Linked DNA regions of Homo sapiens. The protein of the gene in region 6 purifies or fractionates together with the protein of the main gene of each other region. This does not show direct contact. Each region holds a gene or a part of one and is shown on either strand. Other genes may lie near its edges. The genes, in order: VPS13C, INTS7, ACAD9, TRO, VRK2, FAF2 and RPTOR.

Region 1 (4,242 bases), on a different chromosome or scaffold from region 6:
GAGTCATATATTGTTAAGAAATTGTCGTAGCATACTTCTTTGGGGCAGCCTTACTAAGGAGTCAGGCACTGAAACTGACTCCACATATTCTTTTGTTAAAGATGAGTCACTTAACCTGTGTTCCAATTTCCTCTCAATAAAGAAGTAATATTTTTCTGACCTGCCTTTCTCTGGCATAGGGAGGCTAACAAAGAATGTTTTACAAGGCTTTTGAAATACTACTAGAACAGAAGCTGATGGAATCTGATGGCTAGTTAAGTGTTTATTATATTAATATTACTTATTTGAAGGTGTTATTGGTTTAAAAAATAGAAGGAGAGAAACATTTCCAGGTGGCACCTCTAATAGGGATCAGTTTAGACTTCAGGGTCCTCTTAGATTGCTCGTCAACACATAATCACCAGTTGGGTGACACTGAATAAATAGCTATGCTCTGAGGAATGCATAAGAGACAAATATTGTAGCTGGCTTTGAGTAATTTCATGGCGTAATTCTAAACTTTTCCCCATGCTTGGACTATACCCTGAAAGAATGAATGCTGAACTCCATGAAATCAAAGTGAAGCATGGTATATTTTTGAAAATAAGACTTTTGCGAAGCATTACTATAAAGTGATCAGTTTAGGAGAACTGAACTCCAGCATTTTTATTTTATTATCAACTGGCTAATAATTTAAATTTGCTGTGTTATTTTTCTTCATAGGTAAAGAAGAACCCAGTTCAGGATAAAAGTTTGCTGCCAGGAGATGATTTTATTCCTGAGCCACAAATGGCAATTCATATTTCTTCAGGAAATACAATGAATATAACAATATCCAAAAGTTGTCTTAATGTTTTCAACAATTTAGCAAAAGTATGTCTGAATCTTGCTTAGAATATTTCAAGTGGAATTTTAAAATGAAACATATAATTTTTTTGTCATCAAAATTAGTTTCCAAAAAATGTGTAATTATGGTATAGGTTTTGGGAAGAATGTATGTTTTTCAAAAATTTTACTGTGATGATATGTTCCTTTTCAGGGTTTTTCAGAGGGCACTGCTTCTACTTTTGACTACTCTTTAAAGGACAGAGCTCCTTTTACGGTAAAAAATGCTGTAGGTGTTCCCATTAAGGTGAAGCCCAATTGTAATCTCAGAGTAATGGGCTTCCCTGAGAAAAGTGATATTTTTGATGTTGATGCTGGCCAGAATTTGGAACTGGAGTATGCCAGCATGGTACCTTCAAGTCAAGGGAACCTATCTATATTGAGCCGTCAAGAAAGCTCCTTCTTCACTCTGACCATTGGTAGGCTATATTTGTTTTCCTTAAGGGTATCTTAGCAGTTGTTGGTGTGGGCTTATTTTTGATAAAATGTGAAAAAACATTTTGCTGCAGATATCTGGAGATACAACATTTGAAACATATAATTGCTAACCTCTTGTTTCTTGTTTTCTAAACTTGAGAAAATTAAACTTTATTGATTTAAGAAAACTTTACAAAACTAGATTATTTTTGTGCCCTTAAATAATGTATATATTATATAATATATATAAATATTATATATATAATGTGTTTTTAAAAGGATAGGAGTTTACTGAGGAGAGAAAATAGCTATATTCAGAAGTCTTACAGTGTTGACACTGTGACAAAGAAAAAGATTGTTGCTATATGATTGAGAGAATAAGAAATAAGTTGGATTTTGTTTTTATATTCAAAACCCCAAGCAAAACTGTTTTCAGCCAAAAATTTTATAACAGTAACTGGTCTTCTTTTTAAGTTTATGTCTTAGAAAAGCAATTTGTGGTGATCATTTCTAGTGATGAGGAAAAATACTCTTCATTATTTTGAGGTACTAATGATTGTTATAGAGAAACATTGGCAAATTAATATTTGGAATTCTTTTCACTTATGCACTGCCTTAGTACCTCATGGATATACAGAAGTTGCAAATATCCCTGTGGCCAGACCTGGACGGCGATTGTATAATGTACGGAATCCCAATGCCAGTCATTCTGACTCTGTCTTGGTACAAATTGATGCAACTGAAGGGAATAAAGTAATTACCCTTCGCTCTCCTCTACAGGTAATACTTCAAAGTTAATTGTATCCCTTTCAGTGTACCAAGAAATGGTTAAATCATTTAGCTGAATATAGGAATACAGTAAAACTTCATCAGGTCAATTCTGATTATTCAGAAATAAATAGTAATTATTCAGAAATAAATAGTAACAGAAATGGCTTCTATTTACTGTCCAGCTTGCTCTGATAATATTTATTTTAAATGTCTGTAGTTTTGTTTACTTAAAGCTCATTTTTGTTTTCTGTCTTTTAAGACAAATGCAAAATTAATAAAGCTCTTTTGGTATATTCCTTTAAATATTCAGAACCGAGGATTATTGTAATTGTAGTTAGGAAACATTCCATTCTCTTTGTATGTCACTTGGATTATATTTTTCAAGATATGTATGAAGGCATATTGGAATGATCTATCCCTCTGAAAAACATTTTAGCATCTTAATCTGTGTAAATATTTTTTCTACTTTTAAGGTTTTATCCAACATTTTTCTTTTTCTGTGTATTACTACAGGTTTCAGCATATGGTCAACAAAAGAACATTTTTTTTCCTACCTGTAACATCAGATACAAATGAAAAGGTTTCAAATTTTGGACATTGTTATCTTATAGTTTGTTATTTGCTCCAATGCGTAACAGACTGATGTCAAGAAAAGAATTGTACTATTTTTCTCATGATTTTTTGCTATCCATTTCTGTTTAGTTGTTATACATGATACATTGAGAAAAGATTGTCATGGAGAAAAAATGGCTTAAATCTTCAGAGAATAATACATATTTGAAAGATAATATAGACTAATACTAAACATAAGCTTATAATATATGGAGCATTTGAATATCTCAGTTTTCAACTGACACTTAAACATTAAATTTAATATATATAGCACTTAAATACCCTAAAATTTTTCAATTGCCAATAAAAATATCTTCCAATACTGAGTTTGAAATTTTTTAGATCTAAAAGTATTTGTTTGTGGCTCTCATTTTTTCTTTCGAACTTACATATCTTTTAAAAAACTTGTATTTTTTTTTGTCCAACAGATCAAAAACCATTTCTCCATTGCATTTATCATCTATAAATTTGTTAAGAATGTTAAGCTATTGGAGCGCATTGGGATAGCCAGACCTGAAGAGGAGTTCCATGTTCCTTTAGATTCATATAGGTAGATACTTCTTAAATGTATTAAACTTTAAATGTATTGAGTTGGGGATTTATATTCTGGCAAATAACTTCATATTTTTATTAACTAAAGATCAGTAAAAGCCAGTTTTAAGACATAATTTAGTCTTCCATTGAGAAATACATTTATATTATCATTGAATTTATCAGGTGAAAATTCCTGACTGTATATTTGATGTCAGGATTTTTCTGACTATTTTTATTAGATTGCCTTTGTATTTGAAATGAAAATTTTTTTAAGTTGTCTTGTTTACAGAGTTGTTTTTTGTTTGTTTGTTCTTTTCAGAAAGTCCTCCGTAAGTTAGCTATGTGATTTTGGGTGAATTTCCTAACCTTTTTTTTAGCCCTGGTTTCCTCATCTGTATATCTGTAAAAACAGGAATAATAGCACCTATCTTGTAGAGTTGTCAGGAAGATTTAATGAGATGCTTTTTTTTAAGTTGTGGATCAAAACTTTATTGTCACTGTTTCCTCTTTCTGCAGATGTCAATTGTTTATCCAGCCAGCTGGAATCTTAGAGCATCAGTACAAAGAATCTACCACTTATATTTCCTGGAAGGAAGAACTTCATAGGAGCAGGGAAGTCAGATGCATGTTGCAGTGTCCATCAGTAGAAGTCAGCTTCTTACCTCTCATAGTGAATACAGTTGCTCTGCCTGATGAATTGAGCTACATATGTACACATGGGGAAGACTGGGATGTAGCTTACATTATTCATCTTTATCCTTCTCTCACTTTGCGGAATCTTCTCCCATATTCCCTAAGATATTTACTTGAGGTATGTCTCTTGCATTTTGTTTGATTTTTGTTGTTGCACAGAGTAAATTCTGATTTTGTTTTATGGTATTTTTAAGTGAGGTCAGTGTTTTATATAGCGTATGTGTAATGTGTAATGCCTTCATAATGTTAATGATAGCAAAAACTGGCATAACATTTACTATGTGCCAGGAACTGCTCTGTGTGCTTTACATGTATTAGCCTATTTACTCTTTATAATAACCTCCTGATGTA
Region 2 (4,242 bases), on a different chromosome or scaffold from region 6:
TAATTCGATTCCATCTTTCACAACTCAACTCATATGACATTTATTTAAAGTCTTCCCTAATACCCTTGGTTAAAGTTAATCACTCCCGACTCTGACCTCTCATTAGAACTGCACTTTTTTTGTGAAATATCAGAGAATGTATTGTGTTCCGCTTGGTATTATAGTCCCCTATATAAACATCAGTAGCCTATTCTAGATGGGAAGCTCCTCTATTACAGGAACCTTTCTTGGCCATCTATGTATGTCCCACTGTGCTGAATCCAGCATTTTACTGACACCCACAATTGTTGGAAAAAAGATTTGCTTTTAAAAAAAGTCTTAAATGTACTGTGGTTCCAAGGGGATTCTGAGGATCCCCCTCAGAATGTGTTGCCAAACACATGTTGTCTACTTCCCTTCTCTACTTCTTATTAGCTGTCACTTAATGATGTTACTATCTTTATTGTTCATCACTATGACCATATCACAACTTTCCTTAACCTGCTAAAATGAGCCATGACTTCCTTGAAACCACACCTTAGACAAGCTAACGCCAATGTTTATCTAACAGTTTCTTACTTCTATTAACTATGCTTCTCCTCATTAATTTTGCACCATCACAAATTATATTTCACGTTTCACTCCAAAAAGAGTAGTTTCATTTCACATTTTATTTATTTATTTTTTTTGAGACAGGGTCTCATTCTTTCACATAGGGTAGAGAACAGTGGTGCAATAATGGCTCCCTGCAGCCTCAACCTCTCGGCCTCAAGCAATCCTCTCACCTCAGCCTCATGAGTAGCTAGGACTATAGGTGTGCCCCAATATGTCCAGCTAAATTTTAAAAAATTTTTCTAGAGATGGGGTCTCAGTATGCTGCCCAGGCTGGTCTTGAACTCCTAGGCTCATGCAATCCTTCCACCTTGACCGCCCCAAAATGCTGGGATTATAGGCATGAGAGCCACTGTCCTGGCCTCATTTCACATTTTAAAAATCTTGCATATCTCTAAGATGATTTCTGTAACTAAGTGAAGGTGAAAATTCCTTAAAATATTCTTCCCTTGGCTTATAAACTAGGGCTTATACCACTGGGAAATTAATGAACGCTTATGTTAAATTAATGAACATTTATGAGTCGGCTGCAGTCATGTCATCAGTTTTTTTGTGGTTTTATCAGTTAGATTAAATCAGTGTAGTTTTATCAGTTAGATTTAATCACTTAGATTAAAACTTCTAAGAGTACAGGAGCTATGTCTGCTTAACTTTGCTTTCTATTGCCTAAGACCATCATATATATCTATTACAACTTAATAAATAAAAGTTTTCACCTTTAAAGTGGCCTGAGCACCTGGACTATCATCTTGACTACAAAGTACCAGTAGGGATTCCAGGCCAAAGACAGCATCTTGTTCCAGTGCCAAAAGATCTAGAAGAAAAACAGTAAACTTTATGATGGTCAAGTGATGTGTGTACAAACACACACACATATACATGCATACACACTCTCTTAGAAAAAACATTAAGGAGTTTAAGATATAGGGAATTATTAAATGGATGAACCTAACCTTCCTTGAAAAAGTACATGTGGCATTACTTCTAGAATGTAAAGTCTATCTTCAGACTTTATTTCTACCACTTTATTGAAGTATTTATAAAAATATACACATTAAATCAAGAGCTAAAGCCACAAAGCTATAAATAAAGCAAAACTGAAATAGTGTCACCAGCTTAGCTAAGGAAAATACTAAGAACAGCAAACTATGCAGTATGTGTTAATCTCCCTAATCAGAAATAAATTATGCAGGTCCATTTTTACCTAAGATATAACAGTTTTCAGCTTCTAATGAAAGCTGAACCACTTTTAGGAAATAATAAGGTCTCCACATAACCTTATTACTGTTTTAAGTCTGACCATAAAGAATGAACCTCTTAGATGTCTCATGAAATAGCAGCACTAGAACATCTTTTCACTACCATAGGGTTAAAATTTCTCTGAAGGTTTTAGAAAGTTCTGAATATATTAGTTACCTTTAGGTTAATATATTTCAGTGTTGAGAACATACAGCAGTTTTCTGTGTTACATGGAAGAAAATACTCTTTGTGATGCCAATATAAAACAGGCTTAATTATCCAAATCAGAATCAACTTTCAACTTTAAGAAATGTTTCCTGAGTGCAGGAGCTTGGCAAACAGAGTAAAGGCTAGTGAAGGTCAGGTTGCTAGAAAAAAACAGGTACTAGGAACAAGCAGTGCTGAAGGCTAGGGGGGATAAGAGGAACCACTGAGCTTGTAATCCTTAATGAAGATCAAAATCAGCACTGAAACAGATGGAATATCCAAAATGCATTTCTTGTTCTTGAACACAAGTCAAAAGATGTTAGGTAGACAACAAAATATGTGCATTATTTTCCTTGCATGTCCTCCTTGATTATGCAAGTCAGTTTAATGCCACATATACCTAGAGTAAATTCTGTGAAAATTTAATTCACATTGGTCTGTGAATTCACTTGCCTCTAGGTGAAACTATTTGTTATTTAAGTCCCTGGAGAACCTAAGTAAATTTTCTAGGTTTTTGTATAAGTGAACATACCACCTTATACAAAAGGGGTAGAGTCCTAAGCAATCTTTATCCACCATATATGCACCATATATGCAAAGGTAAGCAGTGGAAGGAAATGGGCAATGCTCCATAAAACCTTTCAATTCCACTCCCAAGGTCTTCATCTCTTTATTATTTTTCACAAGGATAAAGTAGTCTTAAGAACACATGCTCTAAGAACACTTTGAAAGGAGTCAATTTGTAGATCAAGGCACACAGGCTAAAAATAAGGGATTAAAAAAAAATCAAACAGAATTCTGTCCAAGGTCTAAACCAAAGTTTATACGTAATATCAGTCCTGATCAAACTTACCCTTTTCTTGACAAGAAACAGTTATATTAGTTAGGACTCTAACTCCATGAGCTGCAATGCCCCTGTTATTATGGTAACAGCACTCTTGGGCTAATTTGACTAAATCAGAAGATCTGGGAGAAGAACTCACATTTCCTAAAAAAGCAGAGAAAAGTAGTAGAAATTGTAATTCAAATAGTTCAAAAGCAGTTCAGCTCATAGGTTCAATTTTCTTAATTTTTGAGAAAAGTCTCTAACAATAAACTTCAACAAAATTTCCTACCACAATCCCACTATCAATACATATCAGCATTTCTCTCCATTAAGGTACTTGAAATAGGTATGTGCCAACAGTTTCGTAATGACTAAGATCTAAAATCAACGTATAATTTCTTAAAAAATATTAATAAAAATTGACTAACAGTACAAAAGCCAAAACAACTATCCTAAGAGTTCAAATGAATTCTGATTAAAACAGGTATCATTATAGGCCTCTTGTCAGACAAAACCATACTTTCAAGATAGGAGAGAAAAGAGAAAAAAATTTAAATTTGCTTTTTTTTTCCATCTCAGATTGCTGACACACATTTATACCTCATATGAATTCGTGATTGTAGAGCTGGAAAGAATTTTGGGATCATCTGATTTAACACACCCTATTTTTACAGGTGGAATCAAAGCCCAAAGCCCCAAAATTTTAAGAATCTTGCCATTAAGTTCATAAAACTTATCAGTCATGTTCTAATGCCCCTGTTATTATACTCTTCTGCTTTATACCTTAAATTCCATGCTATAGATTGCAGCAATTTTTAAAATTCACATTTGAAATTCTGGAATGCAAGGTTCATGTTGTAACTATTGTAATTTACAGTAGAGAAGCCCTCAGTTATAACTGAATAAGCTTCAAGAAAACAAGGAGATTAGGGCTTGTTCAACTACTTAAAAGAGTCTCCCATTCCTGTCTTCTTTTCCTCTGCTTATTTTTCCATGATTCTCGTCAACTTCAACTTTGTTTCTCATACCAAGGGTGACCGTATTTTTTGAGGCTGAAAGAGACGCTACTAAGAATTACAATAGACATAAACCATGAATATCTGTGGTGACATGGGACCTATGGTCACTTTGTTGATTTCTGGTTTAATATAATACAAGTTTAAGAGAGAGCCTCAGTGTTTTTTGGGTTTTTGTTTGTTTTGTTTTGTTTTTTTTTTGAGACAGAGTCTCACTCTGTTGCCCAGGCTGGAGTGCAGTGGTGCGATCATGGCCTACTACAGATCACAGCTCACTATAGTCTCAAACTCCAGGACTCCAGCGATCCTCCCACCTCAGCTTCCAAGTAGCTGAGAATACAGGTGCATGCCACCATACCTGGC
Region 3 (4,242 bases), on a different chromosome or scaffold from region 6:
GTTCGAGACCAGCCAGGACAACATAGCAAGACCTCATCTCTATTTAAAAAAAAAAAAAAAAAGGCCGGGTGCGGTGGCTCACGCACTTTGGGAGGCCGAGGTGAGCGGATCACGAGGTCAGGAGATCGAGGCCATCCTGGCTAACATGGTGAAACCCCATCTCCACTAAAAAATAGAAAAAATTAGCCGGACGTGGTGGCAGGCAGCTGTAGTCCCAGCTATTCGGGAGGCTGAGGCAGGAGAATGGCGTGAACCCGGGAGGCGGAGCTTGCAGTGAGCCAAGATAGTGCCACTGCACTCCAGCCTGGGCGACAGAGCGAGACTCCGTCTCAAAAAAAACAAACCAAAAAAAAGTGGCCAGGTATGGTAACTCACACGTGTAATCCTAGCACTTTGGGAGGCTGAGGCAGGTAGACTGCCTGAGCTCAGGAGTTCAAGACAAGTCTGGGCAACATGTTGAAACCCCATCTCTACAAAAAATACAAAAATTAGCCAGGTGTGGTGGTGCACGCCTGTAGTCCCAATTACTTGGGAGGCTGAGACAGGAGAATCACTCGAACCCAGGAGGCAGAGGTTGCAGTGAGCTGAGATCACAGCACTGCATTCCAGGCTGGGTGACAGAGGGAGACTATGTCTCCCACGGCAAAAATAGTACTTATATGGCTTGGCTTGGCCCCTTAGGTGCTTATGATCTGCTCTAAGAACAAGCCTCCAGATGGACCTGAACCCAGATGGACCTGAACCCAACTCACAGCCTGAAGCAGGCTGCCAGGCACTGCAGACTGAGACAACTAAAGGCTGGGGACTGTAAGCTGAGCTCTAAGGTGGTGTGTCTGCTAGGGCAGCTACAGCAGGGGATGACCAGCAGGCCTTCAAGTGAGCAGCACTCAGCTGCAGGAACAAAGACAAAGCCCAAGTGGCATTCTTAATTTGATCTTTTTAAAATGCTTAACAAAAACTGAAAGTGTTTAAATCTCATTTTATCTTGCTATTTGGACAGAGTCAAGGGCCAGTCTCCCCCTTACACACACACACACACACACACACACACACACACACACACCGTCAAAGGCCAGTCTCCCCCTTACACACACACACGCGCACGCGCGCACAGGAGCTACTTACTGTTGGAGCCCCGAATGCCTAATTTATCTTCGGGTTTCCCATTAGTGACTCCACCAAAGTCTCTTTCTACTATGAATGCTGTGATTTTGTCTTTCACTGATCCATCAGAATCAACGACCTCAGTCTTTGCAAACACAGTAAAAATATTGGCCAGTCCTCCATTAGTAATCCAGACCTGAGGACAGAAAGATGGACTTTGGAGAAAACCAAACCCCTATGTGACCCACCTCAGCTCTGTCTTTGTCCATCAAGCTCCAGCTGCCAGTCAGACCTCAGGCCAGACATGCAGGGTCCTTGGCTCTGCAGAAGCCAACCAAGCATGAGTGAATAGAGGACAGGGCTCAGCCCACTTTCCCCAGAGCAAGGATTTTCCCAAGGGACATGGATGGCCAGGTGGAGGCGGGGGCGGGGGAAAGAACACCCAAAGTTGTCAGACAGCTCAGGCTCCACCGCCAGACAACTGCATTTCTTCAAGAAAGAAAGGGTTTAATCATTTCTTAAGGTATACATATATAAAAACATCATGTTGTAGATGTAAATACACACAACATTTATTTGTTAATTCTACAAAGAAATGAAAAAAGGCGGGAGGGTGGTGAGGAGGAGGAAAGGAAACAGAGGGAGACAGAGGCAGAAACAGACTCCTTAACAAACAGCAACAGATGGGACTTGTGTGGATCTTAATTCAAGCAAACAGTTAAACCAAAAAAAGGTATGAGGCAATCAGGGATATTTGAATGCTGATAGAAGTAAGAAATTATTAGCTGGGCACAGTGGCTCACGCCTGTAATCCCAGCACTTTGGGAGGCCGAGGTGGGCAGACCACTTGAGCCCCGGAGTTTGAGACCAACCTGGGCAACACGGTGAAAACCCATCTCTACCAAAAAAAAAATACAAAGAGTTAGCTGTGTGCCTGTACTCCCAGCTGCTTGGGAGGTTGAGGTAGGAGAATCACCTGAGCCCAGGAAGTTGAGGCTGCAGTGAGCCAAGATCGTGCCACTGCACTCCAGCCTGGGTGACAGAGCGGGACCCTGTCTCAAAAGAAAAGAGAAATTATCAATTTTTAAAATGTGATAAGGGTATTACGGCTTTGTGTTTATTAAAAAACAAAAACAAACAAAAAAAACTCCTGTCTTTTAGAGAGGCATGCTGAGATTGTTACCATGCGATCTGGAGGTGGCGATGCTGCTGGAAGAGGCACAGTGGCCATAAGCAGGTGACTGCCGGAGTTAGGGCCAGCCAGGCACACAGAATATGTCTGAAACTTTGTGTAACAAAAAATTTAAAGATTTTTTGGGTTTACAAGCCGGGCACAGTGGCTCATTGCCTGTAAACTCAGCACTTTGGGAGGCCGAGGTGGGCAGATCACTTGAGGTCAGGAGTTCAAGACCTGACTGGACAACATGGTGAAACTCCATCTCTACTGAAAATACAAAAATTAGCCAGGAGTGGTGACACGCACCTCTAATCCCAGCTACCCAGGAGGCTAAGGCAGGAGAATCATTGGAAACCTGGGAGGCAGAAGTTTCAGTGAGCTGAGATTACACCACTGCACTCCAGCCTGGGTGACAGAGACTCCATCGCAAATAAAAAAAACTAAAAAAAATTAAAAACAAACACATAAAAGCAGCTCAAGAAGGTAGTCGGTGCTACAGCAGCAGGTACAATCCCTGGTGTGTGGAGAGTGCTCACTCAGTGGCAGTGAAGGTTGTGACTGAGACCCTAATGTGGCCATGGGGAAGGAACCCTACCTTGGAGCCATTGAGGATGTAGTGCTTCTTGTCTTCACTTAGTGTGGCTCTGCTCCGGATTGAGGCTGCATCGCTCCCACTGCAGATGCAGAAAGATGTGGTCAAGGGAGAATACTGGGAATAAATATGAATGCTTTTGAGGGCCTGAAAATGGAGGTTTTAGTACTTGTAAGAGGTCAGCAAACTTTTAAAATGAAGGGTCAGATAACATATTCAGCTTTCCAAGCTGCAGGATGTCTGTCTCACCTCCTCAACTCTGCTGCTATTAATAGAACATGAGGCTGAGGCAGGTGGTTCACGAGGTCAAGAGATTGAGATCTGGCCAACATGGTGAAACCCCGTCTCTACTAAAAATACAAAAATTAGCTGGGTGTGGTGGGGCATGCCTGTAGTCCCAGCTACTCGGGAGGCTGAGGCAGAAGAATCGCTTGAAGGCGGAGGTTGCAGTGAGATGAGATTGAGCCACTGCACTCCAGCCTGGGTGACGCAGCAAGACCCTGTCTCAAAAACAAACAAACAAAACTTATTTATAAAAAACAGGCAGGAGGCTGGATTTAGCCGACCTCTGCTTCAATACATCACGTAAAAAAGCGGCAGTGAAAACAACTTGGGCTTAGGTTTAAACATGGAAATGGGTGCTTGCAATGGGCTCATCTGAGGTCCTGTGAGGATGAGTTCTGGGCACCCCAGGAAGGATGACTGTTCCCAGGTTCTCATGCAAAGTGAAGCAGGATGGAGGATGGTCCAGGTGATGGACTTATCATCAGAGTCCCGAGTGCTGCCGCAGCCCTGCTCCATCCAGCAGATCACACAGCCTCACTGAACCTCAGCTCCTAATGTGTAAGTGGGAGCAGTACCACCCACGCTATATATTCTGAAAGGTGCTTTGAAGCCGGAACGTTATTACTATATTGTATGTCAAGGTGTGTTGTAAACCACAAAAATTTATTTAATAAGTGCTGTCAAGCGTGGTATCTCACTTGCAAGTCTCACTGGGACAGAGAAATAAGGTCAAGATAAGAGGAATGGCAAGAACAGTTGCTGAGTTGATTCTTTGCAAGATTTTGGAAAGAAGGAAAAGTCAGCTACTCAACAAAACCAACAGCCCCTTGCCCCAGTGAATCTTGGGCAACATCACAGCTGCTGAGGGATAACGTTTTGTGCAGAGACAGACCTGGCTGGCTCCGTGAGGCAGAAGGCTGCAATGTGCTCCCCGGACGCCAGTTTAGGCAAGTATTTGGCTTTCTGCTCCTCAGTGCCAGCCAAGATGATCCCCTAAACAAAACAGACACAGACTAATGTCAGCTGTGGGGAGAAAGGAGAGCATGAGGTGTTTGTGAAACATTTCCTTTCTGAGGCAAATATT
Region 4 (4,242 bases), on a different chromosome or scaffold from region 6:
CATGTTTATATATGAGCTGCAGGCTGCTCTGTACCTGCCCATCCCTGTGCATTGCCTGCCCCAGCCAAGGGTATCCCATTGCCTTAATATGCCAAGCTCGGGCAGCTCTCCTCTTACCCTGCATGCAAACTTGAGGACTTTCATCTTGCTAGTCTCGTGGTAGGAGCGCAAGCCCCAGAAGAACTCATATTCAGGTGGTCTGCTGTTAGGGACCCTCTTGTACTCCAGGTACCTTGGAAAAAGGAAATGAAACTTGTTTCTAACCAAGCAACCCTGCTGTCTAAGCACTAGACACCAGGTGGCAACCTCCTCCAAACAAATACAAACAGCCCCTGGAGAGGGATTTCTAAGACCCTCCAGCCCCAGACTCACTACCAAACACAGTTTATGGTCTTGGCCTCCAATACTGAGCCATTTCCCACTGGCCCTGTGCAAAGCAGTCCCTTGGGCTTCTCCAGGGGAGACATGTATAGGGCATGATGTCACAGGAAGGCCAAAGTATCATGCCACCTGTGAGGAGTAAGCCCAGATTCCTGTTGGGTGTGTTGTAAACAGAGGAGCCATTCTTAAGGCCCTCTGCTCTGAGCGCACCCCACTGCAAGGGCCTTGTGTTGAGTCTGGCCCAGTCCTGGAAAGGTCTGCCCATGGGAATTTTAGACAGTATCAGTTCTAGGACACAGGATGCCCATCCCTCTAAAGCTAGTATAAGAAAGGCACTGACTAAGCACTTTCTGAACCAGATCAGTATACCCAGAACACTTCAGGGCCAGACAAAGCCCCAAACACCACTTACTTCTGCTTCACAAACTCGTCTGTGATGAGCTTCCTCACTTCCCCAAAGAGTGAATGCCTCACCCTGACAATGGGAAAAATAACCCATGAACACAGATCAGAACTGCCCAGATGAGGGCAGAGGCATTTCCCAACATGGAAGAGACCTCTCTAGCACATGGGGCAGTCTCAATGAAGTGAAGAAAGTAATGAGCACATGGCCACTAGAAGCAAGCAGTTAAGACCAGATGCCTCTTTGTCAGGGATCCCTGAAGGTCTATCTAACATCTCAGCTTAGAACAGACAGAGGACATTAAGGAGAGAGACAGCAGAGAGTTCAGGACCATTTGCCCGTCATCCACCCAGGTCAGAACCCTGGGCCCTCTACCCAGTCCAGCACCCCACCCGCTCCACCAGACCACCAGACTGATGCAATCCTAGGACCATCCTCTCTTGCCAAAGGACAACACGGACAGCAAGCGCTGAGAGAGCCCAGTCATACCCAGGGCGCAGCCCCAACTTGCGCAGCACCTCCCAGATGACAGCTGTGAGGGGAGGCAAGAGGAGACAGGGACAGAAATTGAACACATGGAATCCAGACCATGGCCGCCCATTCAGCTGCATGCCCAGCCACTCACCCTCACTGGCCTTGTTGCCATTCATAAAAATGACACTCAGAATCACCATGAGGAGACCCAGCTTGGGTGTGTCCTTGGTCCTAAGGGAATAACAGGACAGAAAGAAGGTTTATGTTTCAACAGGACAGAAAGAAGGTTTATGTTTCAGCAGCCATCCGCAAAAGATACACCAGCCAGCTCACCAGGCTAACCTCTCCCAGATTCCTCAGATACAGAATTCTGCCCAGTCTCTGCTTCCAGCTCTATGCCACCCTGGGCAAGGCACTTAGACCTTGCAAGCCTTGGTCTATTATTCAGTAAAATGGGAAAATCATATTCTCCCTTCCTCAGGTTGCCAAGAAGATGGAAGAATGGCTGTCAACCTGGTACAACACAAGCACTCAGTCAATGTGAGTCCCTTCTTTCTCTCCCAGAACCTTCAGCCCCACTGACACTCTTGCGCTTCATGCATACTGATCCAGCCACACCAGGAAGCCCTCCTTGAGAACCACTCTGTCAAAGCCAGGCCAGGCACTCCATCGGAAGAGGCAAGCAATGACAGGCCTGCTTTCCTGGGAAGCTTCTACAGAGACAGCAAACCTGACAGCAGGAATGTCCCACCCTAGGCTCCTATACCCTTCAGTCAATCATAATCAGGTGCCACTACTGTGAGCAGGGCTCCAACTATGTGCAGGTGCTGAGACAGGGCTTTTGAGACCCTGTTTTTCCTGACTCTCTAAGAGGATGGGGGAAGTAGGACAAAGAAGGGGTAGCAGCACAGATAAAAGCAGAAGCTTCCTTCCCACTCCAGCCCTTTCCCAGCTTACGTTCCCAGTATGCCTGCAGAGGATTCCTGAGTGCTGATGAGAATATACAAGCTACTTTGCTTATCAATTTCTTTCAGATTGACTCGAAACATCTGCCAAGTAAAAGAATAGCCTGTGAGATCACAAAATTCAGCTTAGGTATCAGTGAACTTTCCGGGCATCCTAAAACTCCCAGTGTACTTAGGGGGTCTGCATGTGTAAGAAGTCAGTGAGATAATGCACATAAAGCACATAGCCAAGTGCCTGGCACCCAGTAAACACACAGCAAATGTACTATTGTCATCAACATCATCTTTGTGATGAGCAGGAATCTAGGGAGACAGAAAATGGGGATACAAGGGAGAGGTGAGATCTGAAATACATGCAGAATATGTCCAACTATGAATAGAAGCTGAGACTAATTTGAGTGGCTTCTGTCCTAGCCATGTTTTCATCACTGACATGCTGTGTGACCCATGGCAAATCTACACCTCTCCCTAGGCCACTGTCTGCCCATTCACACAGTAATGGGGCTGGATTAGCATGTTTCTGTGATTCTCTCCAAAAGGGACATGTATGTCTTTGCTCGATTCAAAGCTTCCCCATTGCGCCCATCCGCCAGCACTGCCCCTTCACCTTCTCCAGAGTGTAGCTTGCTCGTTCAATGATTTCTGGGAAATATTCATCATATTCTTGGATGACATCCCTCAGCATGTCTGTAGAAAAGGAGAGGTGAGAGTAGCTGAGCTTAGCAGGGGCCACAGAGCTGCAGCCCTTTTGCCAGTCCTGTTGGGTCAGTGCAATCAGAGACCTGAAGTGAGTTAATGGGAGATGCCAGCCATGGCAGAGTGCAAGGAGGGCAGGTGTGGAGATATGACAGAACAAAGAGGCCATAAAGTGTTACTCCCAGACTATGGGAGGAGAGGGGAGTGGAGAGGAGAGCTCAAGGAGGAGGGTTGGTAGGACACTACCTGAGCGTTTGATGGGGATCTTTGTCTGGTCCTTAACCAACAGGTATTTCACCAACTTATTAGCCTGGGAGGAGAGGAATAGATGGAGAGATCTTAACATGCTTGCAGAAAACTTGGAAGGAGGCAGAGAAGAGGGCAAGTGAAGAAGAGAAGAGACTGGACAGCATTGGATTCTTACCCTTTCTTGTAAAATGGCCACATCTCGCGGTGGTGCAGGCCTCCGGCCCCATGGGATCCGCCTGTAATTACTGCCACTTCTCTCATCCCCATTCAGATGCTTGGACTTCATCATCAGAAAGAAGGAAGGTCCAGAGTCACCAGGTGAAAGAGATGGCTCTGTCTCCTCACCTTGCCTGCTCCAGACAGAAAGTCCCTCTAACCCCCTCCCTCAGCCTTGCTGTAGTGGAGCCTGATCCTGACCTTGCCATTGGCCACCCTGAGTCCTGAGCTTATCTTTCACTGTCTTCCAGGAAGGAGTTTCGTTCCTCTGCCAGGCCAGGAACAACTCAAGATAAGAGCCTAAGGGTCTTTCTCTTCCTCTGGCTACCACCAATTATGCTGGCTGGTACCTCTTGGACAAGTCACTTCATTTCTCTGAGACTCAGTTTTCTTAAGTGTAAAACTGGGACCTATGATCCCTTGTTGGTAAGAGTTACTTTCAAGACATTCAGACATACCCTGTGTAACTGTACCCAACACAAAGCCTGGCACGTGGTAACTACTATTTAAATACAAGTAGTATTACATACAGGTTGTAGCTGAGTGTATGGATGTCTTATTTCCTCACCAATCTGTGAACTGCTAGGGAGCAGAAACTATATCACCTTCTTCTCAGCATCTTCCACAGCCTATCTGAACACAGGGACTAGCTCAAAGTAAAACTTTTATAGAAGAAATGAACAAACTAGAAGGGTAGAAATGGAAAAGAAGCACAAAGTTAAGGATGGCAATGTCAGAGATCTCACCTTTCGGTTTCTTTTGCCCCGGGTCCTGGTTGTGGGCTCCAGGCTCAACTGAGCCAGATAGTCATCTGCCAGGGCCTGGACAGCAGCAGCAACCTGAGTCTCAAGGGCACTT
Region 5 (3,525 bases), on a different chromosome or scaffold from region 6:
TGCACTACAATGGCATTGTTGAATAGTTCTGACAAAAACTGTATGGAAAGTAAACTGAAAATATTTTCTTTCTGGCCTTTTAAGAAAAGGTTTGCTGACCCCTGCTCTACGGCATTATTCTTCGAGTATTAGAAAGCAAACAGATCATCATAACTTGTTAAAATGCAGATCTCATTCAAAAGGTCTAGGAGTATGACCTGAGATTCTGTATTTCTGAGAAGCTCCAGATGATGCCAATACAGCTGGTCTGCACACCCCACTTTGAGTAGCAAAGGGCTCAAGGCAATGCAATAATCTACTGTGATAGAGCATTGGTTCTCAGCCTGGGTTGATCCTGCCCCACAGAGGACATTTAGCAATTTCTGGAGACATTTTGGGTTGTTACAGCTAGGAGGAGATACTATTGACACCTAGTAGATAAGTACTAGGAATGATGCGAAACATCCTACATCACAGGACAGCACCCCCACAACAAATAACAGCTCAGCTCCCAAATGTCAACAGTGCAGCTGTCAAGAAACCCTACATTAGAATAGTTATTAACTTTGAATGCACATCAGAATCGACTGGGAAGCTATGAAAAATAGCAACACTACTTCCACTCTGGCCATGAAAATCTGATACCAGACTTCCCCTTCTGCTGTGAAAACCCATAAATAAATAATAGAAAACAAAATTAGTCAAAATATGTGAAATAACTTAGGGATCTAAAACAAAGCTCAGGAAGGGAAAATAACACAGACCTAAGAAAGGCCACAATTTAAGATTTACTGCAGACTAGGCCAAAAAAGCCTGAACAGAACTTATAAAATGATCAGGTTTAGTCACCAGTAAGTTAACTGTCTGCCAGAACTAACCTCAAAACTCTTTAAAGGAATGCAATAAAATCTGGAGTCTAAAGACCACAGCATCCACAATGTTCAGTATACAATAAAACTACTACAAATGAGATGCAGGAAATGTGACCCATAACCAGGAGAAAAAATTAACAGAGATTCAGGGCTGATCCAGATGGTACAATTATCAAACAAGGACTATAAAACATCTACATAAATATGTTCAAGGAATTAAAGTTGAACATAATTAATGAACAGATATGGGGGAGGTGGAATCTCAACATACAAAGAAATATACTTGTGGAACTGAAAAATACAGGGTATAACATGAAAAATTCATTGGCTAGGTTTAACAGCTGATTTGACAATCAACTAGAGGTCAGGCAAAAACAAAACAAAACAAAACAAAACAAAACAAAAAAAACACCACCACCCAACCTGAGGTACAGCAACATAAAAGACTGATTTAAAAAAATAGTTATTTAGCTGCCTATGAAAAAGGTAAAGTATTCTAACATGCATGTATTTGGAACTCAGAGAAATAAGAGAGATTAAGGCATGAAACAAATTGATGAAATCATACAAAACCTTTCCAATTTGAAGACAAATATCAACCCACAGATAAAAGCAGCTCTACGAACCCAAAGCACAATAAACAAAAGACAGCCATCCTTACAAAACCAAAAATAACAAGCAAATCTTGAAAGCCACAGAAAGAAATACATTATAAATGGGCCAATAAGAATAACTGCTAACTTCTTAGCAGAAAAAAAAACAGACCTATGAAGATGGAAACATCCTTTTTAAAGTTCTGAAAGAATAGATTCCATATTCAATGAAGCTTTCAAAATCAAAGTGAGGGGCATCCAGTTATAGACAAGAAAGAGTAAGCATCCCACCTTATTCTGGTAATTAAAGAGTGGACAAAAAGCACCTATCAAAACACTGAAAATTCTAAAAATGACCCTCCCTTGAGTCTCCACCCGCCATGTACTTTAGTACCTCCTATTACCCCAGCCTGGGCCATAAAAGAGCCTGCGTTCTGGAAACAGCAATATGCACAGACTGGAAAAAAAAAAAAACAAACATGAAAAACATGCTCTATGTAACCAATAGCCCTGGGGGAGGACAGGTCTACAGGACAGAATCTTTTTATACCTGCTGAACCCTAGGTGAACACCATGAAAGAAGCTGTACCTTACTTCTCTCCAGGTGCTGTGGAAACGGGGCGGCGGGGTGGGGGGGATGGTGGGGGCGGTGGGGAGGTGGCAAGGGTGGGGTGAAGAGGGAGGGTACAGTCCTGTTGAGTATCATCACCCTACACTAACCAGGGAGCACACCTACCCTTCCCCCATCAAGCACTGTGGAGACAGGTAGAGCCCTGTTGACCGTCCTCACACTAACAAGGTGATACCCTATCCCACTGGGTGTTAGGGAAATTGTGAGATAGAGCTCTGACAACCTTTCCCAGCCTGTACTACTGAGGTGGTCCCCCTTCCTTCCCACCAGGAGACTACCAAAACTGTAAGGCAGAGCCATATAGCCTGTTCCTCCCTGCACTAACACAAGCAGATGTGGTACCTGTCTTCCTCCCCACCAGACACTGTAGAGACCGTAGTAGAGAGCTACCAACCTTCTCCACCTTGCACTGAGCAAACATCAGAGCAACAGCAACCCTCCACTCTGGCCTCAGAAACTGGAGAGGCACTTGCCCTTTTGACCGTGCCTGCTGTGCATTAAACAGCAAAGAGTTGGCATCGCACATCTCCCTAACTAGAAAGCTCTGTTCTCAGTAATTGATATAACTACTAGAGTGAAAATCAGCAGGAATATAAAATAAATCAGTAACATCACAAGATAATGGGATCTAGCTGATATTTATAGACTACTTCACCCCCAAACAGGAAAATACATGTTCTTTTCAACTGCAACTGGAACATTCAACCAGGCAGACCGTCATATCCTATCCATAAAACAAACCCTAACAAATTTATATTGTTAGACCATAATATAATTAAACTAGAAATCAATAACTGAAAAAAAAATCTTCAGATACTTGGGAATTAACACATTTCTAAATAAGGTATTAAAAGTCTCAAGGGGAAATATATTTTGAAGTGAACAAAATTGAAATGTATAAATATTTACAGGATGCAGTACAAACAGGGTTTAGCAGGACACTTATAGCATGGAATACTTACATTAGAAAAAATAGTGGGTTCAAATCAATAGCCTAAGCTTCTACCTAAACTGGAAAAAAGGGAAGAAAATACACCAAGATCAAGATGAAGGAAAGAAATAATAGGAAAATCTCCAAATGCTTTAAAATTTAAAGACCCCTTTAAATGGGTCAAAGAGACCCCAGGAAAATTAAAAAATACATTGAACCGAATGGAAATAAAAATACAACATATCAAAACATGGGACATAGCTAATGTCATGCTAGAAGGGAAATTTATAATACTAAATATTTGTACTAGAAAAGACAAAAAGTCCCAATTTAATAATCTGTTTGCACCCCAAGAAATTATAAAAAGAAATGACAAGTATGTGACATGATGGATTTGTTAATTAGTGTGAGTTAAACATCCCACAATGTAGACATATATCAAAGCATCACATTGTACCCCATAGATATGATATATACAATTATATTTGTCAAAAAAAGAATTAAAAAAAAAAGAAATCC
Region 6 (3,500 bases):
CAGTGGCTAACACCTGAAATCCTAGCACGTTAGGAGGCTGAGGCAGGAGGATTACTTGAATCCAGACTGGGCAGCAAAGCGAGACCCCATCTCTACAAAAAATAAGAAAAAATTAGCTAGGCATGGTGGTACATGCCTGTAGTCCCAGGTCCTTGGGAGCCCGAGGCAGGAGGATTGCTTGAGGCCAGGAGTTCGAGGCAGCAGTGAGCTCTGATTGTGCCTCTGCACTCCAGCCTGGATGACAGAGCAGGACTCTGTCTTTAAAAAATAATAAATGAATGAATAAACAAAGACAGGCCTCTGTGCTCAAGAATGTATATTGTGGCATTTAGAATAGCTGAATATAATATAAAGAACTTCGATGTAAAAAAAAAAGTGGAATGGTTATAATTCCTCTCCATTACATAAGTTATGTACATTAATTATAGGAAATCCTAAAACCACAAAAAAGCACAAGGAAGAAATTTAAGATCACTGATAAACCTACCACCACTTGAACATTGTTATAAATTTTTTTAATTTTATACACAACACACACCCCTATATACGTACACATTTATTTGTAAAATTGGGATAATACTTTTTTACAACCCTTCTTTATGTAAGAATATATCACGGCCTTTTCCCTCATCATTAAATATTCTGCCACATTTTAAAAATTACTGCATAACATTCCATTATCTAAATACATCATAATTTAACCAGGCCACTCTCGTTGGATTTTTAGATTATTTTCGGTTTGTTACTATTATAATTAGCATATAGGGAGATAATTTTTTGCAATTTGTGATGGTTTCCTTAGATTAAAATTTAAATTCCTGGAAGTGCAGTTTCTGGGTGAGACAATCAATATAAGTATATTTTAAGGCTCTTGATTTGTAATGCCAACTTGCCCTCAAGAAAGTTAAACAAACTTAAATTTTATGGAAAGTTTTTAATAACATGGGGACATGCTTGTTACATATTAGAAAAATGCAGAATCAGGCCGAGCATGTTGGCTCATACCTGTAATCCGAGCATTTCGGGAGGCTGAGGTAAGAAGATTGCTTGAACTCAGGAGTTTGAGGTCAGCCCGGGCAACATGGTGAAACCCCATCTCTACAAAAAATACAAAAATTAGCTAGGCGTGGTGGCACACGCCTGTAAGCTGAGGTGGCAGGATTGCTTTAGCCTAGGAGGTTGAGGCTGCAGTGAGTCATGATCGCACCACTGCACTCTAGCCTGGGTGACAGGCTAGCCCTGTCTCCAAAAAAAAAGAAAAATGCAAGATCAAAATCCTGTAAATAATAGCGTTATTTTAACTGTGTAAAAAAATGTATAGAACAGGAAACTTTCCGAGGTAACTGAAATGTTCTGTCTTGATTGGAGTGGTGATTACATGGTTACATTTATCAAAATTCATTGAATTGTACATTTAAGATCTGTGCATTTCACTGCATGTAAATTTTATCTTAATTTTTAAAGATAAAATCTGTTCAACTATTTTGATTGGCTAAATATTTTGGCTAAGAGAAAACAGAAATTTGTTGGAGAGAAAATAGGAGATATGCCAAATGTTATAATGTTTTATCTTTGATTAGTGATTCTCTGAATGACTCTGAAAACTCTACATTTTCAGATCTGCTACAATGTGTGTATGGATATATATGTGTGTGTTTTGGTTTTATGAGATCAGTACAAAAATGCAGTCACCCAAAATGGTATTTACTTGTAAAATATGATATTGATGATCCCTTCATAATAACAGTACTGTGTCACATTTGTTAGAATTAGGGGAAAAGTTTTATTTTAAAAGAGGAGAGGAAAGCTTGCTGTTTCCTTTTCTGCCAAATTAAACTGAGAAAAAAGGTGGCTTATTCAGATTCTGCCACGCTCTGCTTTTGGAATCCCTTATGGCAGTGTGAAATCGTCATCTGCTAAGAATATCAACATTTTTACACACACACACACACAGAAGATTTCAATATAAGAAAACACAGAACTTTGTGAGAGTGCTGTTTTTCTTCTCTTGCTTTTGATCTATTCACAGGGAAGAAAGAAACCAGACCCAAGTGCTGAGACAACAGCAGGATGAGGCCTACCTGGCCTCTCTCAGAGCTGACCAGGAGAAAGAAAGAAAGAAACGGGAGGAGCGGGAGCGTAAGCGGCGGAAGGAGGAGGAGGTGCAACAGCAAAAGTTGGCAGAGGAGAGACGGCGGCAGGTAATGGACGTGTGGCTTTACTCCCTGTGGTTCCCAAACTGCCGAGACTTTGCCATCTTGGTCTTAAGTGTGAAAGGAAAAAATGATAGCCACCTTAAACAGACTAAGAGGGAAAAAAAAAAAGGAAAAAGGAAAGAAAAAATTACAACATGTTGGAATTAGGGGTGATTTAAATTTTTCATACCATTTAAATATTCATTCTTTTTTAAATAAAAATTTAAAAAAAGAGACGGGCTTTGCCATATTGGCCAGGCTGCTCTCGAACTCCTGACCTCACATGATCTGCCTGTCTTGGCCTTCCAAAGTGTTGGGATTACAGGCGTGAGCCACCATGCCTGGCCCTAAATATTCATTCTTAATACCAGTATTAGCTGATTTGGCATTTTACTCATTATCTTTTTGTTTTTGTTTTGTTTTGTTTTGTTGTTGTTTTTGTTCCCTAGCAATCAGACTGAGATATACATTATCTTATTTGATTATGTATTACCGCTTACCTATAACCAGTGTCTTTTAGTCATTTCCTTTTATTTCTTTTTTTTTTTTAAGAGACAGGGTCTCACTGTGTTGCCCAGGCTGGCGTGCAGTGGCTATTCACCAGTGCAATCATGGAGCACTACACCCTGAAACTCTTGGGCTTAAGAAGTCCTGCTGTGGCCTCTGAAGTAGCTGGAACTACAGGCACATACCATGGCACCCTGCTCCCTTTCTCCTTTTTCTCAAATAAATACCTAGACATAATAAAGAATACATGAGATGCAATTGTACTTTAAATTTAGGTTGTTTTTGACTATTCCTGAGAGGTTTTTCTTAGAATACTTAGTCATTAATTTTTCTTCTGACGACTGCGTAATAAAGCTACATGGTCATTGTATTTATTTCTTGAGCTGTAGCCTCACCTTTGCTTTGTGTCTCTGCAGAATTTACAGGAGGAAAAGGAAAGGAAGTTGGAATGCCTGCCCCCTGAACCTTCCCCTGATGACCCTGAAAGTGTCAAGATCATCTTCAAATTACCTAATGATTCTCGAGTAGAGAGACGATTCCACTTTTCACAGTCTCTAACAGTAAGGACCACCTAAGTTCTGTGAAGTGTATGTAGCATCTGGGCTATAGATTTGGAGCTTTTACTGACTCTTGAGAGTGGTGTTGGTGTATCTGCTGCTCTGATGAACAGGGAACAGAGAGAGAGAGAGAGAGATGGGTATGCCATCCGTGGACACCAGGAAGAGTACCGAGGACTGCTGTAGGCTCCTTCAGTTCTAGTTTCCAACTCAAAGCAATTTTTAAGTTTTTGTTTAATTA
Region 7 (4,242 bases), on a different chromosome or scaffold from region 6:
ACTGCCCTCACAATCACACAGGCTCTTCACAAACATCCTCCCAGCTCCAAGTCCAGAGACCTCAACAGTTCTTTAGGCAGAGCGAATGGAAAGAGGGCAACAGATTAGGGCCTTTATGTTTCTTATCTAATGTCACTTCAAGGCCCTGCCTGACATTTCTGACCAGCCACCTGATATCCTCAAGCCCTTCTTCCTAAGGATGAGGCCCACTTTCTTCTAACTACACTAATAACTCTCAAACATCTGGCAGCAGGGCCCCTTTACGGTCTTAAAGGTTCCTGAAGACCCTCAAAGAGCTTTTTTATGAGTTTCATTTATCAACATTTTCCGTATTGAAGGTTAAAACAGAAAAACATAATTGATATATTTATGAATTCACTTAAAAATCAAACTTATTATATATTCAAATAAATAACATTTCTACAAATAACTATATTTTCAAAAATTGTCAGTTATCTTGTCACTTGTCTCAGGTGGCTTTTTTTAGATTTTTGCAAATCTCTTTAATATCCAGCTTCATAGAAGACAACTGGATTCTCATTTTTTTTGTTGTTGTTGTTGTTTGTTTTGTTTTGTTTTGTTTTGTTTTGAGACAGAGTCTCACTCTGTCACCCAGGCTGGAGTGCAGTGGCGCAATCTCAGCTCACTGCAAGCTCTGCCTCCCGGGTTCACGCCATTCTCCTGCCTCAGCCTCCCAAGTAGCTGGGACTACAGGCGCCCGTCACCTCGCCCGGCTAATTTTTGGTATTTTTTAGTAGAGATGGGGTTTCATCGTGTTAGCCAGGATGGTCTTGATCTCCTGACCTCATGATCTGCCCGCCTCAGTCTCCCAAAGTGCTGGGATTACAGGTGTGAGCCACCGCACCCCACCTTGGATTCTCATTTTTGGTGCCACATTCAATGGGTTGAAATACACTGTTTTGGTTGAAGTATGTGAGAAAAATCTGGCCTCACAAAGATACATAATGGCAGGAGTATCAGAATATCCAAATAATTGAGAATATTATTATTTGATATTACAACAAAATTGAGTAAGTGGTAGTTTCTTAAAGATCTGTTGCAATCTATTTGAATAAAATATTTAAACTCTCACTATAGGCAACATAGTGAGACCCCATCCCTACAAAAAATCCAAAAAAAAAATCTAGGCATGGTGACTCACACCTGTAGTCCCAGCGACTCAGGAGGCTGAGGCAGGAGGATCACTTGAGCCCAGGTCAAGGATGCAGTGAACTGTGAAACAAACAAATAACAACAAAAAATATACACACACGCACACAACAGAACATCAAGCGGGGTGTGGTGGCTGACCCCTGTAATCCCAGCACTTTAGGAGGCCAAGGCAGGTGGATCACCTGAAGTCAGGAGTTCGAGACCAGCCTGGCCAATATGGCAAAACCCCATCTCTACTAAAAATATGAAAATTAGCCAGGCGTGGTAGCAGGCACATGTAATCCCAACTACTCAGGAGGCTGAGGCAGGAGAATTGCTTGAACCTGGGAGGCGGAGGTTGCAGTGAGCCGAGATCGCGCCACTGCACTCCAACCTGGGCAACAGAGCAAGATTCCGTCTTAAAAAAAAAGAAAAAAAAACACCTATCCTCTGGTGAACTTTTTGTACCCTATTACATTAAAATCCACTGGTCTAACATTGAACGGATCTTTTACCTATGGATGATTTTATAATATCATGGATTGGTCATCTGGAAATATTTGTTCACTGAATTATGCAGCTGTTCCAAATGTGGGCACATTTCATTCTACAACATTAATTCCATTCATTAATATCACTATGGATCTCACCAGAAACATCTTTAAGTCTTGGGAAGCTGCCAGGCTCACAGCGGCAGATACAAGTTTTCCAAAACCAATTTTCACTTGAAGGTTCAAATTTCATGACTGGCAGCAAATACTGTCAGCTGTATTCCTTGAAGTGACAGCTCACTAAGTTCATTTTCAAAAACACGTCTGCCGTGGACACAGGCCTCAACATCCAGAGGCGGCCTGTCGGTGATTCCTTTGGGACGTGCTGCGTCCATGAAGGCAGCAGATGCTCCTCCTCCAGGCAGCCACTGGGCTTTGCCTGCAGGAGAAGGAGCAGCACACACAGTCTGAAAAAGATGTGTGCTTAACAGTCAAGATTTAGTAAAAGTCATCATTTTCACTGCTTTATTAGCAAGGACATTCTCTCCATGTGCATGGCAAAGAAATCAGGAACTAGTAGTACAGCTTGGCACCGCTGTCTTGATTCATCACTTTTGCACTGTCAGTGCAGGTATCAACAGAGTGGAAAAGGCCAATGGTGTTCCATTATTATGAAAACAGTTTTGACCTTGTGGATCCCTGCAAGGGTCTAGGAGAAGCCCCAGTGCACAGGGCACATGCTGTGAGCAGACTGAGCATCCTTCTCTGTCTGCTGAATGTTGGTCTGCTGGTCTGCTATTTTCAACCCCCTGACCTCTTAACATAAATGTTTCAGTGGAGACATTATGATACAGTTTTGTTTTGTTTTGTTTTGAACTAAACTTTGTTTCTCCCTCTGCACAGGTTCCACTTCCTCTCACTGCTAGCCATGTTACTTATGTAACTTTAGGTAAGCCATTCAACTAAAACGTCAGTTACCTCATCAGTAACACGGAGAGAATGATCCCTAGGTAATTTATGGTGCTGTTGAGCCTTAAAGATAATGTATGTGGAAGCCTTTTGTAAACTATCCATTTTGTATCAGTATAGTTTTGTTGAATCCCTACTATGTGCCAAGCACTGCCCTATGGACTAGCATAGACTAGACTAGGTCCTTGCTTTATGATGAAAAGCTCACATCTCCAGGAGGAAGTAGGGAGAAAAATATCAGAGAAATAAATAGCCATCAGGAGGGTTTATGAGTGACAGGGTGGCTGCTTCAGATGGGGTGATGGTGGGCCTCTCTGAGGAAGGGACCTAGATGCTAAGTATGAACGACGAGAAGGGGCCAGGTGTGCAAAGATCAGAGAGAAAAGCATTCCAGGAGTTTCTATCCAAGAAGCAGAAAAGGCAGGCAGAGGCCAAATCATGAAGGCTTTGTGAACCAGCAAGAGGAGTCTGAGTTCTACTTTAAGCACAGAGGAAGCCAATGGAGACCACCAGTAAGGAAGTAACAGAATCTGATTCACACTTTTGTGGGGAAAAGCAAGAGAGATCAGATTGTTACTGTGTCTGTATAGAAAGAAGTAGACATAGGAGACTCCATTTTATTCTGTACTAAGACAAATTCTTCTGCCTTGAGATTCTGTTAATCTATGACCTTACCCCCAACCCCGTGCTCTCTGAAACATGTGCTGTGTCAAACTCAGGGTTAAATGGATTAAGGGCGGTGCAAGATGTGCTTTGTTAAACAGATGCTTGAAGGCAGCATGCTCCTTAAGAGTCATCATCACTCCCTAATCTCAAGTACCCAGGGACACAAACACTGCGGAAGGCCACAGGGACCTCTGCCTAGGAAAGCCAGGTATTGTCCAAGGTTTCTCCCCATGTGATAGTCTGAAATATGGCCTCGTGGGAAGGGAAAGACCTGACCGTCCCCCAGCCCGACACCCGTAAAGGGTCTGTGCTGAGGAGGATTAGTAGAAGAGGAAGGCATGCCTCTTGCAGTTGAGACAAGAGGAAGGCATCTGTCTCCTGCCCGTCCCTGGGCAATGGAATGTCTCGGTATAAAACCCGATTGTACGTTCCATCTACTGAGATAGGGAAAAACTGCCTTAGGGCTGGAGGTGGGACATGCGGGCAGCAATACTGCTTTGTAAAGCATTGAGATATTTATGTGTATGCATATCTAAAAGCACAGCACTTAATCCTTTACCTTGTCTATGATGCAAAGACCCTTGTTCACGTGTTTGTCTGCTGACCCTCTCCCCACTATTGTCTTGTGACCCTGACACATCCCCCTCTCGGAGAAACACCCACGAATGATCAATAAATACTAAGGGAACTCTGAGGCTGGCGGGATCCTCCATATGCTGAACGCTGGTTCCCTGGGTCCCCTTATTTCTCTCTCTATACTTTGTCTCTGTTTCTTTTTCTTTTCCAAGTCTCTCGTCCCACCTAACAAGAAACACCCACAGGTGTGGAGGGGCAACCCACCCCTTCACACTTTCAAAAAATCCCTCTGGCCAGGTGTGATGGCTCACGCCTGTAATCCAGCACTCTGGGAGGCTGAGGTGGGAGGATCACTTGAGCTCAGGAGTTCAAGACCAGCCTGGCCAAC

What was found.
Region 1: the proteins of FAF2 (region 6) and VPS13C purify together in Homo sapiens (affinity purification with mass spectrometry; 4 studies listed by BioGRID and IntAct, with this or other methods). This does not show direct contact.
Region 2: the proteins of FAF2 (region 6) and INTS7 purify together in Homo sapiens (affinity purification with mass spectrometry; 3 studies listed by BioGRID and IntAct, with this or other methods). This does not show direct contact.
Region 3: the proteins of FAF2 (region 6) and ACAD9 purify together in Homo sapiens (affinity purification with mass spectrometry; 3 studies listed by BioGRID and IntAct, with this or other methods). This does not show direct contact.
Region 4: the proteins of FAF2 (region 6) and TRO purify together in Homo sapiens (affinity purification with mass spectrometry; 3 studies listed by BioGRID and IntAct, with this or other methods). This does not show direct contact.
Region 5: the proteins of FAF2 (region 6) and VRK2 purify together in Homo sapiens (affinity purification with mass spectrometry; 4 studies listed by BioGRID and IntAct, with this or other methods). This does not show direct contact.
Region 7: the proteins of FAF2 (region 6) and RPTOR purify together in Homo sapiens (affinity purification with mass spectrometry; 4 studies listed by BioGRID and IntAct, with this or other methods). This does not show direct contact.

The regions. Positions count from the first base shown.
Region 1 is NC_000015.10:61,917,108-61,921,349, reverse strand, and holds part of VPS13C (intermembrane lipid transfer protein VPS13C), read left to right. Parts: intron 1-702; coding exon 703-852; intron 853-1,018; coding exon 1,019-1,283; intron 1,284-1,900; coding exon 1,901-2,061; intron 2,062-2,565; coding exon of another isoform or gene 2,566-2,628; exon of another isoform or gene 2,629-2,986; intron 2,987-3,092; coding exon 3,093-3,214; intron 3,215-3,714; coding exon 3,715-4,009; intron 4,010-4,242. UniProt on the Homo sapiens protein: Mediates the transfer of lipids between membranes at organelle contact sites. Necessary for proper mitochondrial function and maintenance of mitochondrial transmembrane potential.
Region 2 is NC_000001.11:211,979,786-211,984,027, forward strand, and holds part of INTS7 (integrator complex subunit 7), read right to left. Parts: intron 3,026-4,242; coding exon 2,891-3,025; intron 1,406-2,890; coding exon 1,308-1,405; intron 1-1,307. UniProt on the Homo sapiens protein: Component of the integrator complex, a multiprotein complex that terminates RNA polymerase II (Pol II) transcription in the promoter-proximal region of genes.
Region 3 is NC_000003.12:128,896,345-128,900,586, reverse strand, and holds part of ACAD9 (complex I assembly factor ACAD9, mitochondrial), read right to left. Parts: intron 4,152-4,242; coding exon 4,051-4,151; intron 2,956-4,050; coding exon 2,877-2,955; intron 1,301-2,876; coding exon 1,126-1,300; intron 1-1,125. UniProt on the Homo sapiens protein: As part of the MCIA complex, primarily participates in the assembly of the mitochondrial complex I and therefore plays a role in oxidative phosphorylation.
Region 4 is NC_000023.11:54,923,657-54,927,898, reverse strand, and holds part of TRO (trophinin), read right to left. Parts: coding exon 4,131-4,242; intron 3,449-4,130; coding exon 3,344-3,448; intron 3,230-3,343; coding exon 3,166-3,229; intron 2,911-3,165; coding exon 2,831-2,910; intron 2,308-2,830; coding exon 2,216-2,307; intron 1,490-2,215; coding exon 1,410-1,489; intron 1,317-1,409; coding exon 1,274-1,316; intron 857-1,273; coding exon 794-856; intron 595-793; exon of another isoform or gene 464-594; intron 233-463; coding exon 118-232; intron 1-117. UniProt on the Homo sapiens protein: Could be involved with bystin and tastin in a cell adhesion molecule complex that mediates an initial attachment of the blastocyst to uterine epithelial cells at the time of the embryo implantation. Directly responsible for homophilic cell adhesion.
Region 5 is NC_000002.12:58,154,315-58,157,839, reverse strand, and holds part of VRK2 (serine/threonine-protein kinase VRK2), read right to left. Parts: intron 3,087-3,525; coding exon of another isoform or gene 3,070-3,086; exon of another isoform or gene 3,038-3,069; intron 1-3,037. UniProt on the Homo sapiens protein: Serine/threonine kinase that regulates several signal transduction pathways.
Region 6 is NC_000005.10:176,496,885-176,500,384, forward strand, and holds part of FAF2 (FAS-associated factor 2), read left to right. Parts: intron 1-2,029; coding exon 2,030-2,201; intron 2,202-3,118; coding exon 3,119-3,262; intron 3,263-3,500. UniProt on the Homo sapiens protein: Plays an important role in endoplasmic reticulum-associated degradation (ERAD) that mediates ubiquitin-dependent degradation of misfolded endoplasmic reticulum proteins.
Region 7 is NC_000017.11:80,551,091-80,555,332, reverse strand, and holds part of RPTOR (regulatory-associated protein of mTOR), read right to left. Parts: intron 1-4,242. UniProt on the Homo sapiens protein: Component of the mechanistic target of rapamycin complex 1 (mTORC1), an evolutionarily conserved central nutrient sensor that stimulates anabolic reactions and macromolecule biosynthesis to promote cellular biomass generation and growth.